Regions from separate parts of the Homo sapiens genome. Here region 2 is linked to region 1. Evidence: fine-mapped expression QTL. Tissue or cell type: transverse colon. Region 1 holds a variant in brackets; the other region holds the start of a gene. All regions are shown on one strand. Distances are from middle to middle.

Region 1 (8,108 bases):
GGCAATGACTAAAACAATGTAGCACCAGTCTCAGAGCATGTGAATGGAAGAAAATGTCAAAAGGAACTCCCGAAAGCTGTGAGAATTTAGTACATTATAAAGTCACATATTAAGGCCAGGCCCGGTGGCTCACGCCTGTAATCCTAGCACTTTGGGAGGTTGAGGCAGATGAACTATTTGAGGTCAGAAGTTCAAGACCAGTCTGGCCAATATGGTGAAACCCCATCTCTACTAAAACTACAAAAATTAGTCAGGCATAGTGGCATGCGCCTATAATCCCAGCCACTCTGGAGGCTGAGGCAGGAGAATCACTTGAATCTGGGAGGCGGAGGCTGCAGTGAGCAGAGATCACGCCACTGCACTCCAGCCTAGGCAAAAGAACAAGATTCTGTCTCAAAAAAATAAAAAATAAAAATAAATAGGCCGGGCGCGGTGGGTCACGCCTGTAATCCCAGCACTTTGATTGGCCGAGGCAGGTGGATCACAAAGTCAGGAGATCGAGACCATTCTGGCTAACACGGTGAAACCCCCTCTCTACTAAAAATACAAAAAATTAGCCGGGCATGGGGGTGGGCACCTGTAGTCCCAGCTACTCAGGAGGCTGAGGCAGGAGAATGGCATGAACCCGGGATGCAGAGCTTGCAGTGAGCCGAGATCGCGCCACTGCACTCCAGCCTGGGCGACAGAGTGAGACTCTGTCTCAAAAAATAAATAAATAAATAAAGTCACATATTAAATGAGAATTTTCAACTTTGAGAAAGAATTATGTTATATCCCTACCTCTGGCCTTTATAAGCAGTATCAATATATTTTGAATTATCAAAGTAAGTCAAATATTAATATTATTATTAATATATTTGACTTATTCTTTTTCTTTCTTTTTTTTTTTTCTGAGACAGGGTCTTATTATGTCGCCCAAGCTGGAGTGCAGTGGCACAATCACAGCTCACTGCAGCCTCAGCCTCCTGGGCTCAAGCAATCCTCTTGCCTCAGCGTCTCAAGCAACAGGGAGTACAGGCATGAGCCTCCAAGTCTGGCCAATATTTTATTTTTGTAGAGATGGACTCTTGCTGTTTTGCCCAAGCCAGTCTTGGACTCCTGGGCTCAGGCAATACTCATCTCAGCCTCCCAAAGTGTTGGGATTACAGGCATGAGACACTGCACCTGGCTGAAAGTCAAAATTCTTAAGACTATTACTGACAGATTTTACTGCATAAAAATTATAAATGGTCCTACTTCAAAAACAATCAAGATATATTGAAAACTGAAAAAAATGAAAATATACAACCAGCTGGGCACAGTGGCTCATGCCTGTAATCCCAGCACTTTGGGAGGCCGACGCCAGTGGATCACCTGAGGTCAGGGATTCAAGACCAGCATGGCCTATATGGTGAAGACTCGTCTCTACTAAAAATACAAAAATTGGCTGGGCCTGGTGGTGGGCACCTGTAATCCCAGCTACTCAGGACGCTAAGGCAGAAGAATCACTTGAACCTGGGAGACAGAGTTTGCAGTGAGCTGAGATCACCCCACTGCACTCCAGCCTGGATGACAAGAGTGAAACTCCGTCTCAAAAAAAATAAATAAATAAAAATAAAACATATACAACCTAATAGGAGGTAATATACTTAATACATAAGCAATTTTGAATTGATAAGAAAAAAAGCAAAATAATTAAAAAATGGACTAAGTATACAAGCAAATCACACATACAGAAAACAAATAGACAAAAATATGTGAAATCAAGGACATGAGAAAAAATTTGACATCACTTATCATTAAGGAAATGCAAACTAACCTATAATCAGTATGTAGGTTATATTAAGTAAAATTCAGAGAACGTCATCAGAAATCAACTTTAGTTTACTACTGGTTATCCAAATCAACTCTGTGAGGCTGGGTTGGGTTTGATTTTTTGTGTGTGTTTTTTTTTTTTGTTTGGTTTTTGTATTTTCTCATTACTCTCTTATTTAAAACATAAAAATTAAAAAGTTGTGTTGTCACTTCTAATCACAGAAAACATTCTCACTTCAGGACCTAAAACGTCTGATTCTGTGTAACAGTCACAACTCTGAATTCCATTTAAAAGAAAAGTGACTCTCCTCCCCCAGCTCGGCCCTGCTTCAGACAAAGAGATAATAGTAAAAACAAAATGGGGAGCATGGGGTGAACCTGTTTCCTCATCTTGCACTTTTACTAATCAGGTAAGATCTTTCCTATCCCCAGTCTCTCACTATTTACGATGCCTCTGGGATGGTGGCACCTGATGTGAGCTGAATAGGATCCCTCAAAAAATATATCATCTTGAAGACCTAACCCCTAGCACTTCAGAATGTAACCTTATTTGGAGACAGTATTTTTACAGTGGTAATCAAGTTAAAATGAGGTCATTAGGATGGGCTCTAATCCAATTCGCTGAAATTTGCATTCACACAGACAGACATATACAGAAGAAAGATGATGTGAAGAGATGTAGGAAGAAGACGGTCATCTCCACGCTAAAGAGAGGCCTGGAAAAGATCCTTCCTCACAGCCCTTAGAAGCAGCAAGCAACCCCACAGACACCTTGATTTCAGACTTCCAGCCTCCAGAACAGTGAGGCAATAAGATTCTGTTGTTTAAGCCGCCCAGTGTGTGGTACTTTGTTTTGTGTTCGTTTGTGTGTTTGTGTATGTGTTTGTTTGTTTGTTTGTTAGAGACAGGGTGTCACTCTGTTGCCCAGGCTGTTCTTAAAGTCCTGGACTCAAGCAATTCTCCCACCTCAGCCTCCCAAAGTGCTGGCTTACAGGTGTGAGCCACTGTGTCCAGCCTGTGATACTTTGTCATGGCAGCTCTAGGAAACGAATACAGCACTCAGCAGTACTTTCCTTCTTAAAGAAGAATTCATAAAGCACTCATGAGAGAAAGAGGGTGCTTTAATAGTGATATCCTGTCTCTAAACAAACAAAGTACCATACACTGGGTGGCTTAAACAACAGAATCTTATTGCCTCACTGTTCTGGAGGCTGGAAGTCTGAAATCAAGGTGTCTGCAGGGTGGCTTGTCACTTCTAAGGGCTGTGAGGAAGGATCTTTTCCAGGACCTCTCTTTGACATTCTGAAGTACAAGGGGTCAGGACTTCAAGATATCAAATGTTTCACATGCACAAACACACACACACTCGGACACACACACACACCTGCTGTGGATCTCTCATCTGCTGTTCCCTTGATGCAGGCAAATTCATCTCTGCTGAGTTGTTGGCTGGTTGCACACAATTCTTCCCTCAGGCCCAGGACATCCATCATCACACCTACTCCAACTTCTTTCTCCCTGTCTTTGATGCAGTTCTGTTGATGTAAGAAACCCTACCTTGGCACTCTACACAGGAGTCCACACCTAGTCATGGAGTCCACACCTAGTCAACAGGACATGCATGCCTTTGCCCCACCATCAATGGAAATGTGGCTACTTCGCAACTGCAGCTCTCTACTTTTGATGCCACAGGCAGCTTCTACCAGCCTCCAAACATATCATTTTCTCAAGCCAGTGTCAAACCCCAAAGCCCACTGTCCCTTAAACTGCAGAAGAATTATATTAAACTCTCTGAATGATCTAGAAATGTCTTTCACTGGGCTTGATGGAGCACCCCCCAACCCTTGCCATTGAAGAGGGGAAGGCATGAAACTCACAGTACACCAACAACTGTGTTAACGAAATCTTTATTATAATCTCCAGTCTCCACTTCCTTTCTTGGCTTTTCTAGTGTTTTTTACAGGCTGGCAGAGAATGGGCAGCTAAAAATAGCAAAGCCAGTTCCTACCACCTGCTGCATAAACTGCCTAAAAGGCCCAGCACCTCACTGTGAAATGTGGAGATTACCTTGTGGTCCCAAGCAAAACTGAGGCAGAAACAATCGCATTTTAACAACCTGTTATAAATGTAACACCGAGTGGTGTTTTTCACCTTTCATATTGGCAAAGCCGTAGAAAAATTATAATATCCTTCTTTAGCAAGGGTGTTGATCAAGAAAACACTCTGATCATGGAGGCCAATTTTGCACAACTGTATAAAGTCAAAAGACATAAAATGAACATTCCCTTTGATCCATAAATTTCTCCTTTTGAAAGTGCCCAAAAGAAATACAAAATAACAAAAATGTACAAGGCTGCTTATTGCAGCATGGCCTATAATAACAGATTTGTAAATAATTTAACTGAGCAGCAATAATGATTCATTATGATGAACACATTCATAGAAATACTTTAATATAGCCCATGAATACTGAGACAGAAAACAATAAGATTAATTGGCATTGTTCTTTCTTCTTGGTCACACAATTAAAGAGTTGATGCATTTTTTGCACCTGTTGACTTAATAGATGAGAACAGCTGAAATGGCTTTCTTGTAAAACTTCAGTAACTCTTCCAGTTGAGACTGAATTTAATTTACCTTGAAACCTCTGGAATAAGTGTAGACACATTAATTTTGCTCATGGCACTATAGTAGATGCTCAAGAGATGTTTGTTGAATGAATAGACACTTGAATGGAAATCCCAGCTCTGTGCAATGATCTTAATAATCTTAATGATTTCTGTGTGTTATATCCACCATTATCATGTACATAATAGGATTCCAGTAAAATAATCTATGTGCATGTGAAAGTCCTTTGTAAAGAGTAAATCATGCTAATATGTTAATGGTTAATATTTTATTAGAGAATATTGTTTTTTGTTCTGGCAAAATCTATGGTATCATTGCCCTTTTACAAATGCTCTAAAGCATGTAGAAGCTAATTTTTTTTCTTTTCTTTTCTTTTTTTTTTTTGAGATGGAGTCTCACTCTGTCACCCAGGCTGGAGTGCAGTGGCACAATCTCGGCTCACTACAACCACTGCCTCCTGGGTTCAAGTAATTCTCCTGCCTCAGCTTTCCGAGTAGCTGGGATTACAGGTACGCACCACCACACCCAGCTAATTTTTG[T/C]ATTTTAGTAGAGACGGGGTTTTACCATGTTGGCCCCGCCGGTCCCGAACTCCTGAGCTCAAGTAATCCACCCACCTTGGCCTCCCAAAGTGCAGGGATTACAGGCATGAGCCACCACAATCGGTCCGTAGAAGCTAAATTGATGAGGAAACTAACATTAACAAGTCCCTTGAGGAGCTCTGCACACTTGGAGTGAAGAAGTTTCAAGGTAATTTATTATGACATTGTGGTTACATTTTGATCAGCAAAAACCCAAGTGGTGTATTAAAAGATAGTGTACATGCACATGCATGCATACACAAACACACACACACACACACACACAGTTTTTTGAGGAACTTCCATCCCATTTTCTACAACAATAATGTACTAATTTTCATTCCCACTAACAATGTACAAGAGTTACATCATTTTCTCCACATACTTGCCAACGTATTATCTTTCATCTTTTTGATAATTGCCATTTTAACAGGTGTGAGGTGATATCCCATTGTGGTTTTAATTTGCATTTCCCTAATGATTAGCGATGCTTAGCATTTTTGCATGTACCTGTTAGCTCTTTGTTGGTCCTCTTTTGAGAAATGTCTGTTTAGGTCCTTTGCTTATTTTTTAAATGGGTTATTTGTTTTCTTGCTGTTGAGCTGAGTTCCTTATACATTTTTAATATTAACCCCTGCTGTTTAATTTGTAAACGTTTTCTCCCATTCTGTCTGTTGTCTCTTCATTTTGTCAGTTATTTCCATTGCTGTGTAAAAGCTTTTTACTTTGATGTCATCCCATTTGTCTATTTTTGCTTTTGTTGTCTGTGCTTTTGAGGTCATTTCCAAAAATTCATTCTCACGCCAATGTTGTGGAACTTTTCCTGTATGGTTTTGTGAAAGAAAAATATCTTGGGCCCCCAGAATCACTAATCTAAAGGGAAAAGTCAAGCTGGGAACTGTTTAGGGCCAACCTGCCTCTCATTCTAATCAAAGTCACCCCTCTGCTCACTGAGATAAATGCATATCTGATTGCCTCATTTGGAGAGGCTAGTCAGAAACTCAAAAGAATGCAACCATTTGTCTTTTATCTACCTGTGACCTGGAAGCCCCTTCCCCACTTTGAGTTGTACAGCCTTTCCAGACTGAACCAATGTTCATCTTACATGTGTTGATTGATGTCTCATGTCTCCCTAAAATGTGTAAAGCCAAACTGTGCTGTGACCAACTTGGGTACATGTCGTCAGGGCCTCCAGAGGCTGTGTCACAGGCACGCATCCTCAACCCTGTTAAAATAAACTTTCTAAATTAACTGAGACCTGTCTCAGATTTTTCAGGGTTCACATTTTGGTAACCACAGGGGGATTCTGAGTGGAGGTGCCTCTTACCTTTGACAAATCTATCGGTCCTTGGTACCAGCATGAGCTAACTTAATGGCTCAAACCAAAAGGACAATTTGCTGAGGTCTGGGAGCACCCCCTCCAGAGAATCCCTGATCTCCCAAAATTTGGTCAAGATCTAAAGTTTATTTTGCTGTATAAACCCCCCCCCCTTTTTTTTTGGAGTTTTACTTGCTTCCAACACAAGGAAGGCAAGTTTTTCCTGCTTCCATAACAATGGAAGGTAGGTAACTCCTTTATGGAATTTGAGCTACTTCCAACAGGGAAGATGAAGGGGGTTTTTTGCTGCTTCTAGGATAGTAAAGAGCAGTCTTCAGCCTGAGAGCCACCCCTGGGTAAGTAACTGAATTGGGATTTGTCTTGGATAAAGTTAAAATTAACAACCAACTGGTCTTAATTTCTCCTTACCATTAGAGTGCTCAGTGATCACATAAGTTGTGCGATCACTTGTTTTGCTTAACTGGTTTTTGTTGTTGTTGTTGTTGTTTGTTTCTGTTTTTGTTGTTGTTTCAGTCTTTTCCCACTGGGTGTGACCAATTCTATCCAACTTGATCAAATCCAAGGGAATGTTCCAAATTATGGGGAACGAGGCCTCTGAAGTGGCTAAATTCCCATAAAAAAAAAAAAAAAGAAAAGATTTTTTATTTTGACTACTTAAGGAGCTTTATTTACATAACAAGGCCACCCTTTTGCTAGCCAAGCCAAACTGAAAGAGCAATGGCTGTACTTCTGAAAGAACAGAAATACAGTAATAAGATTTAAAAACATCTATTTTAAAAGGAGCTCAATGGTTAAAAGTCACCCTAATTAGAAGCTAACATCCAAGATGTGTATATGTATGTGTGCAGGTGGATGTGTTTGTATTTAAAAGGCCCTCACATTTTTGTTTTGTTTTTCTCCTAGGACCCTGTCTTTTTTTGAGCAAAAGTTTTTTCCCACTCAGTTGACTGAATTCTGGTTTCTTCATTTACTTCTGTCTCTCCTTTATCTTGCCCCCTCTGCTGCATAGGGGACCTAAAATAGTTTAATAATAGCCTGGGGTTCCTTAAAGAAAACTGAGAAAGTGCCAGACTCCCTTTGGGGGAGAAACCTGTTTTTCTTATGGGACCCCAAGAACGTAAACAGACAAGTTCATCTCAGCTCTTAAACTGTTTGCTTTTGTATTGTGTTACCTGTTTTGTTTTGGTTTTTTTGACTAAAATAGTTAACTGCAACAGAGCTTACTCTGTTTTTAAGGAACAGCGTGGTTTAGACACTAAGATATGTGTTCATTAAAAAAATTTTTTTAAGTGCACCATAAAAGCATCACATTGTCAAACCTCATAAAATGATCTCTCCAAAACATTTTAATAAAAGAAAAGGGGGAAAATGTGAAAGAAAAATAAATCTTGGAACCCCCAAATCACTAACCTAAACGGAAAAGTCAAGCTGGGAACTGCTTAGGGCCAATCTGCCTCCCATTCTATTCAAAGTCACCTCTTTCCTCACTGGGATAAATACATATCTGATTGTCTCCTTTGGAGAGGCTAGTCAGAAACTCAAAAGAATGCAACCATTTGTCTCTTATCTACCTATGACCTGGAAGTCCCCTCCCCATTTTGAGTTGTACAGCCTTTCCAGACCAAACCAATGTTTATCTTACATATGTTGACTGATGTCTCATCTCCCACTAAAGTGTATAAAATCAAACTGTGCTCTAACCACCTTGGGCACATGTCATCGGGACCTCCTGAGGCTGTGTCATGGGCACACATCCTCAACCTTGTTTA
Region 2 (8,108 bases), 610 kb after region 1:
ACTGCAGCCTCGAACTCTTGGGTTCAAGCAATTCTCCTGCCTCAGCCTCCCAAGTAGCTGGGATTACAGTTGTGTGTCACCACTACATCTGGCTAATTTTTTTGTATTTTTAGTAGAGATGTGGTTTCTCCATGTTGGCCAGGCTGGTCTTGAACTCCCGGCCTCAAGTGATCCATCCACCTCGGATTCCCAAAGTGCTGGGATTACAGGCATGAGCCACCCTGCCTGGCCTGTTTCTTTTGTTTTTTTTTTACATGGTTGTGCATTGGTTATTTTCCTGAGCACAAAAGTGATGATTACCCAATACCCATCAGTGTTTGGTACTTAATAGGCTCTGAATACAAATTTCTCGAGTTAATAAATACATGCTCATTGTTGAAAACTCAAAAAACACAGAAAAGAGGAAAAAATTAAAATAATTTAGAAAAACCTCTCAACCAGATGTAATTACTGTCTATGCATTGGCGTACATCCCTCTAGTTATGTACATAGTTGGGGTCATGCTGAATGTTTATCATTCTTTTTTTTCATAACATTATTGTCAGAGATATTTGAACCAGAATAACTCCATCTCGAATAGGGGCTGGGTAAAAGAAGGCTGGGCTGCATTCCCAGAGGGTTAAGTATTCTAAGTCATGGGATGAGATAGAAGATTGGCATAAGATACAGATACAGATCACAAAGATCTTTCTGATAAAAGAGCATGCAGTAAAGAAGGCAGCCAAAACCCACCAAAACTAAGATGGCGACAAGAGTGAACTCTGGTCATCCTCATTGTTCATTATACACTAATTGTAGTGCATTCGCATGCTAAAAGATGTTTCCACCAGTGCCATGACTGCCAATTTCCAGAAGTTACCCTGTATAGTCTAAAAAGGAGAGGAACCCTTAGTTCTGGGAATTGCCCACCTCTTTCCCAGAAAACTCATGATTAATCCACCCCTTGTTTAGCATATAATTAAGAAATAATGATAAGTATCCTTAATCAAGCAGCACATACTTCTGCTCTGCCTATGGAGTAGCCATTCTTTTGTTTCTTTACTTCTCTAATAAACTTACTTTCACCTTACTCTGTGGACTTGCCCTGGTCCTTCTTGCACAAAGTCCAAGAACTCTCTCTTGAGGTCTGCATTGGGAACCCTTTCCAGTAACATTATGGCATAAGAATTTCTCATGTTATTAAAATAGTTTTAAATAATTGTGATGGCTATACAATATTTTGTCTTATGGGTACAATGTAATTTTACCGTTGTTGGCTCTTTCTGCTATTTTCAATTTTTTTTTCCTATGATAAAATGAAGACAAAGTCTATAGAATAAAAAATACAGTGACTAGACGTCTGGAGACATAGGAACACCTGAATATAGAATTGTCTGTATTAACCTTGCTTGTATTCTCATTTCAGGAGAGTGAGCTCTCAACAGGGTCTACTAAAGAGAAAGCAGAGGGTAACAAATTGTCAGCTTGTCTCCAAAGCAGTGTGAGAGTATTCTAATTTTGATGAACCATCCCAGAAATAGTTTGAAGAGAAGTATGTAGGTATTTCAACAGACTTATTGGAAGTACTCAAGGGCATTCAACTCTCATTTTTCTAATTCTGGGATCATGCTGCTGAGGTATAAATTTATGGCTAACTGATTTATAAATTAACTAGAACATCCTGTGCAAAGATTTGGTTCTTTAGCCAAATACAGACTAGGCACTGGTTCATAAATTAATCCCTCTTAGGTGGCTGGTGTCACTTCCCAGAAGCATGATAACTGTGGCACAAATAGAACCAGAATGGCCAGGTGTGGTGGTGCATGACTGCAGTCCCAGATTCCTGGGAAGCTGATGTGGGAGGATTGCTTGAATCCATGAGTTCTGGGCTGTAGTGTGCTATGCCAGTTGGGTGTCTGCACTAAGCTCAGCATCAATATGGTGGCCTCCTTGGAGCAAATCACCAGGTTGCCTAAGGAGGGCTAAACGGGTCCAGGTTGGAAATGGAGCAGGTCAAAACTCCTATGCTGATTAGTAGTGGGACCATGCCTGTGAATAGCTACTGCACTCAAGCCTGGGCAATAAGCAAGACCCTGTCTTGGAAAAAAAAATATACCCGGAATGCAGTATTTCTAGATTTATAGAACACCATCATGGTTTTGATAATAACTGGTGAAGCCCAGCCTGGGAAGCAAGATAACTAGCCTCATTCTTTCTAAAAACACTTCTTTGCTGCATTAATAACCAACAGAGGAATTCAACTCCTTGGAACCTTCCTTCCAGGATGCATACAGGTGATGGTGTAGTGATACCTGTGAATTGCAACATGACTTTTTCAGTCTCAGTACTGTATCTAGTTCATGGTATAATCTTGGGAATGTTAAGGATGCAACTGGGAGCTTCACTAAGTCCTCTGGATTCCCTGGCTACCACTAAGCATACTAAGACATAGCCTAATTGTCCCAAAGAATTAACAGAGTTGGGTTTCAATCAAACCTGTCACCATTGTTTTAAATTATGGGCTCTAATAGAGCTGGCATTGGAACTTGAAAAGAAACTCATGTAATTATATTCTTCTAATGATATAGCAAATGAATTTTTGCTTTTAGAAAAAATATTGGGTAGTGAAGAGCCACATTCTTTTTTATCCACCTAAACTGATTACACACACTTAGCAATGGAACAAAAAATTAAAGGTATAACAGGTACCAACTTCATACAAAATGCACACACACAGAGGATATATAAATGTGTGTACACATACACATATGTTCCTTGGCCCCTGTCTGCTGTTGATAAATCAAAATCTAGATAATAGTGTGGTTTTGTCTTGAACATTTCTATCTGAATGAAAACAACACAGTGTAGGAGTTCCTTGCCCTCGCTTTGAATGCTTAGGACAATGCAAATTGGGGTTTCCCAGCATATTGCAACCGAATCCTCTTCAGGCCCTGTCAGCTGTGCTCCAGACAATGCCATCCCCAAAGACAGAATTGCTATGGTTCATAACAGTGAAACCCACAGGACAAGTGTCCAAGAGTTTCACTCCTTTCTTTTGTGGAAACAGCCTCCACCCTCAGGCAAAGAGGAAACCCAGGGTTGGCCTTGACTAACAGCTTGCATAGGTATGGTGGAGCCAGGGTGTTTCAGTAAGGGTGGTGTGGTCATTTGCCTCTGCATTTATAGTAAAAGAAAACTGATAATGGAGTCCCAAGAGACAGCAGTCAGGGAAAATATGAAACATCAAGTCCAAGAGAATGAGCAAAAAGCAAAGCCAAACTTTCTGGTGGAGGAAGCAGTAGGGTGTGGGGTCGGGATTTTTTTCTAAGTGCACACCCCTGCAGCAGAGTAACCAGCCAGAGCTGGGGGAAAAATTAGGATAGCTACCTGTTAGGCATGTAGGGGTGTGTTTGCATGTTTAGTACGGCATAAATTCTTCAAAGACCTGATGGTCTTTAATATTCCAACCAACTCTCGTTTCCCCATTTTGTCATTAAATTAGCTTAAAGAGGAACTTGTAGCTTTTAGAGAACTCATGAGTTTTCCGCTTCATCATCTGCTTCTGTTTTCTCCATCTTAGTTTGCCCAAAGCTTGCTGGCCGCTGTGTAGGGCTGGTGAGTGGCTGGGGCTGTCTGAGCCATGAACAACTTCAGGGCCACCATCCTCTTCTGGGCAGCGGCAGCATGGGCTAAATCAGGCAAGCCTTCGGGAGAGATGGACGAAGTTGGAGTTCAAAAATGCAAGAATGCCTTGAAACTACCTGTCCTGGAAGTCCTACCTGGAGGGGGCTGGGACAATCTGCGGAATGTGGACATGGGACGAGTTATGGAATTGACTTACTCCAACTGCAGGACAACAGAGGATGGACAGTATATCATCCCTGATGAAATCTTCACCATTCCCCAGAAACAGAGCAACCTGGAGATGAACTCAGAAATCCTGGAATCCTGGGCAAATTACCAGAGTAGCACCTCCTACTCCATCAACACAGAACTCTCTCTTTTTTCCAAAGTCAATGGCAAGTTTTCCACTGAGTTCCAGAGGATGAAGACCCTCCAAGTGAAGGACCAAGCTATAACTACCCGAGTTCAGGTAAGAAACCTCGTCTACACAGTCAAAATCAACCCAACTTTAGAGCTAAGCTCAGGTTTTAGGAAGGAACTCCTTGACATCTCTGACCGTCTAGAGAACAACCAGACGAGGATGGCCACCTACCTGGCAGAACTCCTGGTGCTCAACTATGGCACCCACGTCACCACCAGTGTCGACGCTGGGGCTGCTCTTATTCAGGAGGACCACCTCAGGGCCTCCTTCCTCCAAGACAGCCAGAGCAGTCGTAGTGCCGTGACCGCCTCTGCTGGACTTGCCTTTCAAAACACCGTGAACTTCAAATTTGAGGAAAACTATACCTCGCAGAATGTCCTCACCAAGAGCTACCTCTCAAACCGAACCAACTCCAGGGTGCAGAGCATTGGAGGGGTTCCTTTTTACCCAGGCATCACCCTCCAGGCCTGGCAGCAGGGTATCACCAACCACCTGGTGGCCATCGACCGCTCTGGCCTGCCGCTGCATTTCTTCATCAACCCCAACATGCTACCTGACTTGCCAGGCCCCCTGGTGAAGAAGGTGTCAAAGACAGTGGAAACTGCTGTGAAGCGCTATTATACATTCAACACCTACCCTGGCTGCACAGATCTCAATTCTCCCAACTTCAATTTTCAGGCCAACACGGATGATGGCTCCTGCGAGGGGAAAATGACCAACTTCTCTTTCGGTGGGGTTTATCAGGAATGCACTCAGCTCTCAGGGAATAGGGATGTCCTCCTCTGCCAAAAGTTGGAGCAGAAGAATCCACTCACTGGTGATTTCTCCTGCCCCTCTGGCTACTCCCCGGTGCACCTGTTATCCCAGATCCACGAGGAGGGTTACAACCACCTGGAGTGTCATCGAAAGTGCACTCTCCTCGTCTTCTGCAAGACCGTGTGTGAAGATGTGTTCCAGGTGGCAAAAGCTGAATTTAGGGCTTTTTGGTGTGTGGCCAGCAGCCAAGTACCTGAAAACTCAGGACTGCTTTTTGGGGGCCTCTTCAGCAGCAAGAGCATAAACCCCATGACAAATGCACAGTCATGCCCAGCCGGCTACTTTCCACTGAGACTCTTTGAAAACCTCAAGGTATGTGTTTCTCAGGACTATGAGTTGGGAAGCAGGTTTGCGGTCCCCTTTGGCGGGTTCTTTAGCTGCACAGTTGGGAACCCCCTGGTAGATCCTGCTATATCCAGAGATTTAGGGGCACCGTCTCTGAAAAAGTGCCCCGGGGGCTTCAGCCAGCACCCAGCCCTCATCAGCGATGGATGCCAAGTGTCCTATTGCGTCAAATCCGGGCTCTTCACAGGAGGGTCCCTGCCCCCTGCCAGGCTCCCACCTTTCACCCGGCCACCCCTCATGAGTCAGGCTGCCACCAATACTGTCATAGTGACCAATTCTGAGAATGCGAGATCCTGGATTAAAGACTCCCAGACCCACCAGTGGAGGCTGGGAGAACCGATAGAGCTGCGGAGGGCCATGAATGTCATCCATGGGGATGGTGGTGGTCTGTCAGGAGGGGCTGCAGCTGGGGTCACAGTGGGGGTCACCACCATTCTGGCTGTTGTTATCACCTTGGCCATCTACGGCACCCGGAAGTTCAAGAAGAAAGCATATCAGGCAATTGAGGAAAGGCAGAGTTTGGTTCCAGGCACTGCAGCAACTGGAGACACCACTTACCAAGAGCAGGGGCAGAGTCCAGCTTAAATCTCTCCCCGAAAATGGTTTCTCTCATCTCCAGTGTGGTCATTGCTGACCACTCTGTTTTCCTAAGCATTGAAATGGCAAGTGCAACCAAAAGTAGGTATATTCGTGACTTCTTGTTTAGGTCTCTGGGCCAGGAAATTCATACTGTTACATGGATAAGGTTGGGATTGGGGAGAGGGAACAGTTGGGACTAGAAGCAAAAGTGATTCTGGGACTAAAATAGGAAGCAGATGTCCTTTCCCAATGTGTGTTGCTGTCTTCACCTGAATGCATTTGTGTAAAAATAGCGGAGGGACAATGTGAACATTTGTATTTGGAAGCTATGAATTTACTCTGAAGTTTGCAGTTGTTTCCAATTTGTGAGCTCTAAGAGTTTCTGCCTGTAAGAACTACTCTCCTTTTATTTTGATTTTTAAAAACCTGTCTGAATTTCACACTCTTAGAGCCTGGAAGAGCCCTGAAAAGACACAAGTCTTGCCTGGCTACTGCTTTTTAACTTTGAGGGCTCTATGTTGACAGACTGTTATCTCCTCTGGGTGACCTCAAACATCTGAAAAGAAAGATGTTGCCTGTGCCAATTCCACTTTTTCCAGCTGCCCCTTGATGAACACTCCCTTATACCAGACCACTCTTGGACTTCTGACTGGTGTCATCAAGTCCTCAGAAAATATTTTAAGTTATTTTAAGTTATTAAGGAAGGGATGATTTGGAGACAAGGAGTAATGAAAGATGGGTAAAAACTGGAAAAGATTCTGGTGCTAAGTACTACCCCTTCATCTTCCATGGATGGTCATTACCTTTCCTGTCCTCCTGTTATATGAACACACACACACACACACACACACACACACACACACACGCACACACATACCACATTTCAATAAGTCTTCATTGTTCTGGGTCCTTACCTTTCCTGTCCTCCTGTTATATGAACACACACACACACACACACACACACACACACGCACACCACATTTCAATGTCTGCATGGTTCTGGGGGTAACAAAGGCAAGAAGTTAAAGTAAGACCACATTTGAGTATTACTTACTCTGTAGAATCAAAACAGAGTAGTTAACACCAATTATGCAAACTACTTTTTTTTCCAGCAGAAAGGGAGCTGACATGATCAAATCCATGTTTTCAAATGAACTGAAAAAGGCATCCAGCACCACTTATAACACATTTATTTCAGTTCCAGGCTGACAGCCCTGGGGCATCTAGCAGGATGCATAATTGTCATCTGGTGAGAGTTGGGACTTTGCTCAATTTTAATACCAATCTCTCCTGATTGTAATTACCTCCACTACTTTCATGATCCCCCTACAATATTTTTTTAAATGATATATTTATTCACTGAATCAAATGTCATTAATGAGTTATCTTCTGTGGAGGATGACTGTTCTCTTTGTTAATGTTCACAATCAAGATCTTGGGCTGAGAAGAGGCCCTTCACCCAAGGAGTTTGAAGTATCACAGTGTGTGGGAAGGTGGGAACCAGGATACCCATTCATTTCCAACCGAGACACAGAGAAGTGAGTCACAGAATTTGAGCCCGCTCTCTTGACTGCCCAGCCAGAGACACTGATTTCTGTAACCTCTTCACTTGATCCTGCCTCTTAAGCATTAAAACATTCTCCTAAACCTCTGAGTGTTTTGTGGGTTCTGGGTGTTTTGTACATTTTAGCCAAGCTAACCACTTGTCTGCAAGTACTGACTTTCCTATGAATTCTTTGAAGATTATTGAGTCAGAAAGGAAAAATATAGCCCCAAATTCCCAGGCTTTTAATGCATTACATTAACTGCCTATTGAAATGAGAAGTTCTTCACAAACTTGTATACCCACTAACAAGATTGCACATAAACATGCATTAAAGTATATACTAAGAAACCCTCTGTCCAACGGCTCATGCATATGAAGTCCGAACATGGGAGTTTGCCAATTGCATTCATCAAGTCGTTTTGCGGAGTCAGATCCCTGATGGAAGAGCTCACAGGCTCTGCCTTCCAAGTCCTGGGTTCCTAACTGGTGACCTTAGCCTGGGGTCTGTGGGGAGACCAACCCTGGCTTCCAAGAAAACCACATTCCATGGACTATCAGAAATAGACACAGATTTGGGTGACAAAGCTGGCTCTGTATTTGCATTTTATTTTTGTGTTCTTGTCAGTTTGGGAATGATTAATATTAAACATTTATTTGAGAAACAACAGCCTGTAAATAATTTAAACACACACTATATTGCAGCCAGGCAAAGAGACCTTTAAAAGTGAATATTCGTGATTCTAAAAGTGTTTTTCTCCCACACGTTCACTTACTCATTTTCCCAGCAATGTGGTCTGT

Alleles and levels. Positions count from the first base shown, and alleles are read on the strand shown. Sizes are in standard deviations (SD) of each study's normalised expression.
In carriers of allele T in region 1, the expression in transverse colon of the gene that starts at base 3,558 in region 2 tends to be higher than with C alone (moderate effect, 0.45 SD a copy in GTEx).

What was found. PIP is the estimated chance that this variant, and not a neighbour inherited with it, causes the effect.
Region 2: MPEG1 starts here. The variant in region 1 is fine-mapped to the expression of MPEG1 in transverse colon (GTEx, PIP 0.94).

The regions. Positions count from the first base shown.
Region 1 is chr11:59,814,454-59,822,561 of GRCh38, reverse strand. No RefSeq gene overlaps it. Among named protein-coding and RNA genes, the nearest start is that of MRPL16, 7.7 kb to the right of the region's middle. The variant T/C (reference allele first, on the strand shown) is at 4,962.
Region 2 is chr11:59,208,377-59,216,484 of GRCh38, reverse strand. It overlaps MPEG1 (macrophage expressed 1), which reads left to right and starts at 3,558. Exons shown (of 1, transcript NM_001039396.2): 1 at 3,558-7,975. The coding sequence starts at 3,620. The coding sequence ends at 5,770. DTX4 (deltex E3 ubiquitin ligase 4) reads right to left here. Exons shown (of 9, transcript NM_015177.2): 9 at 7,897-8,108. It also overlaps the pseudogene RN7SL42P. RefSeq lists an enhancer at 3,382-3,581.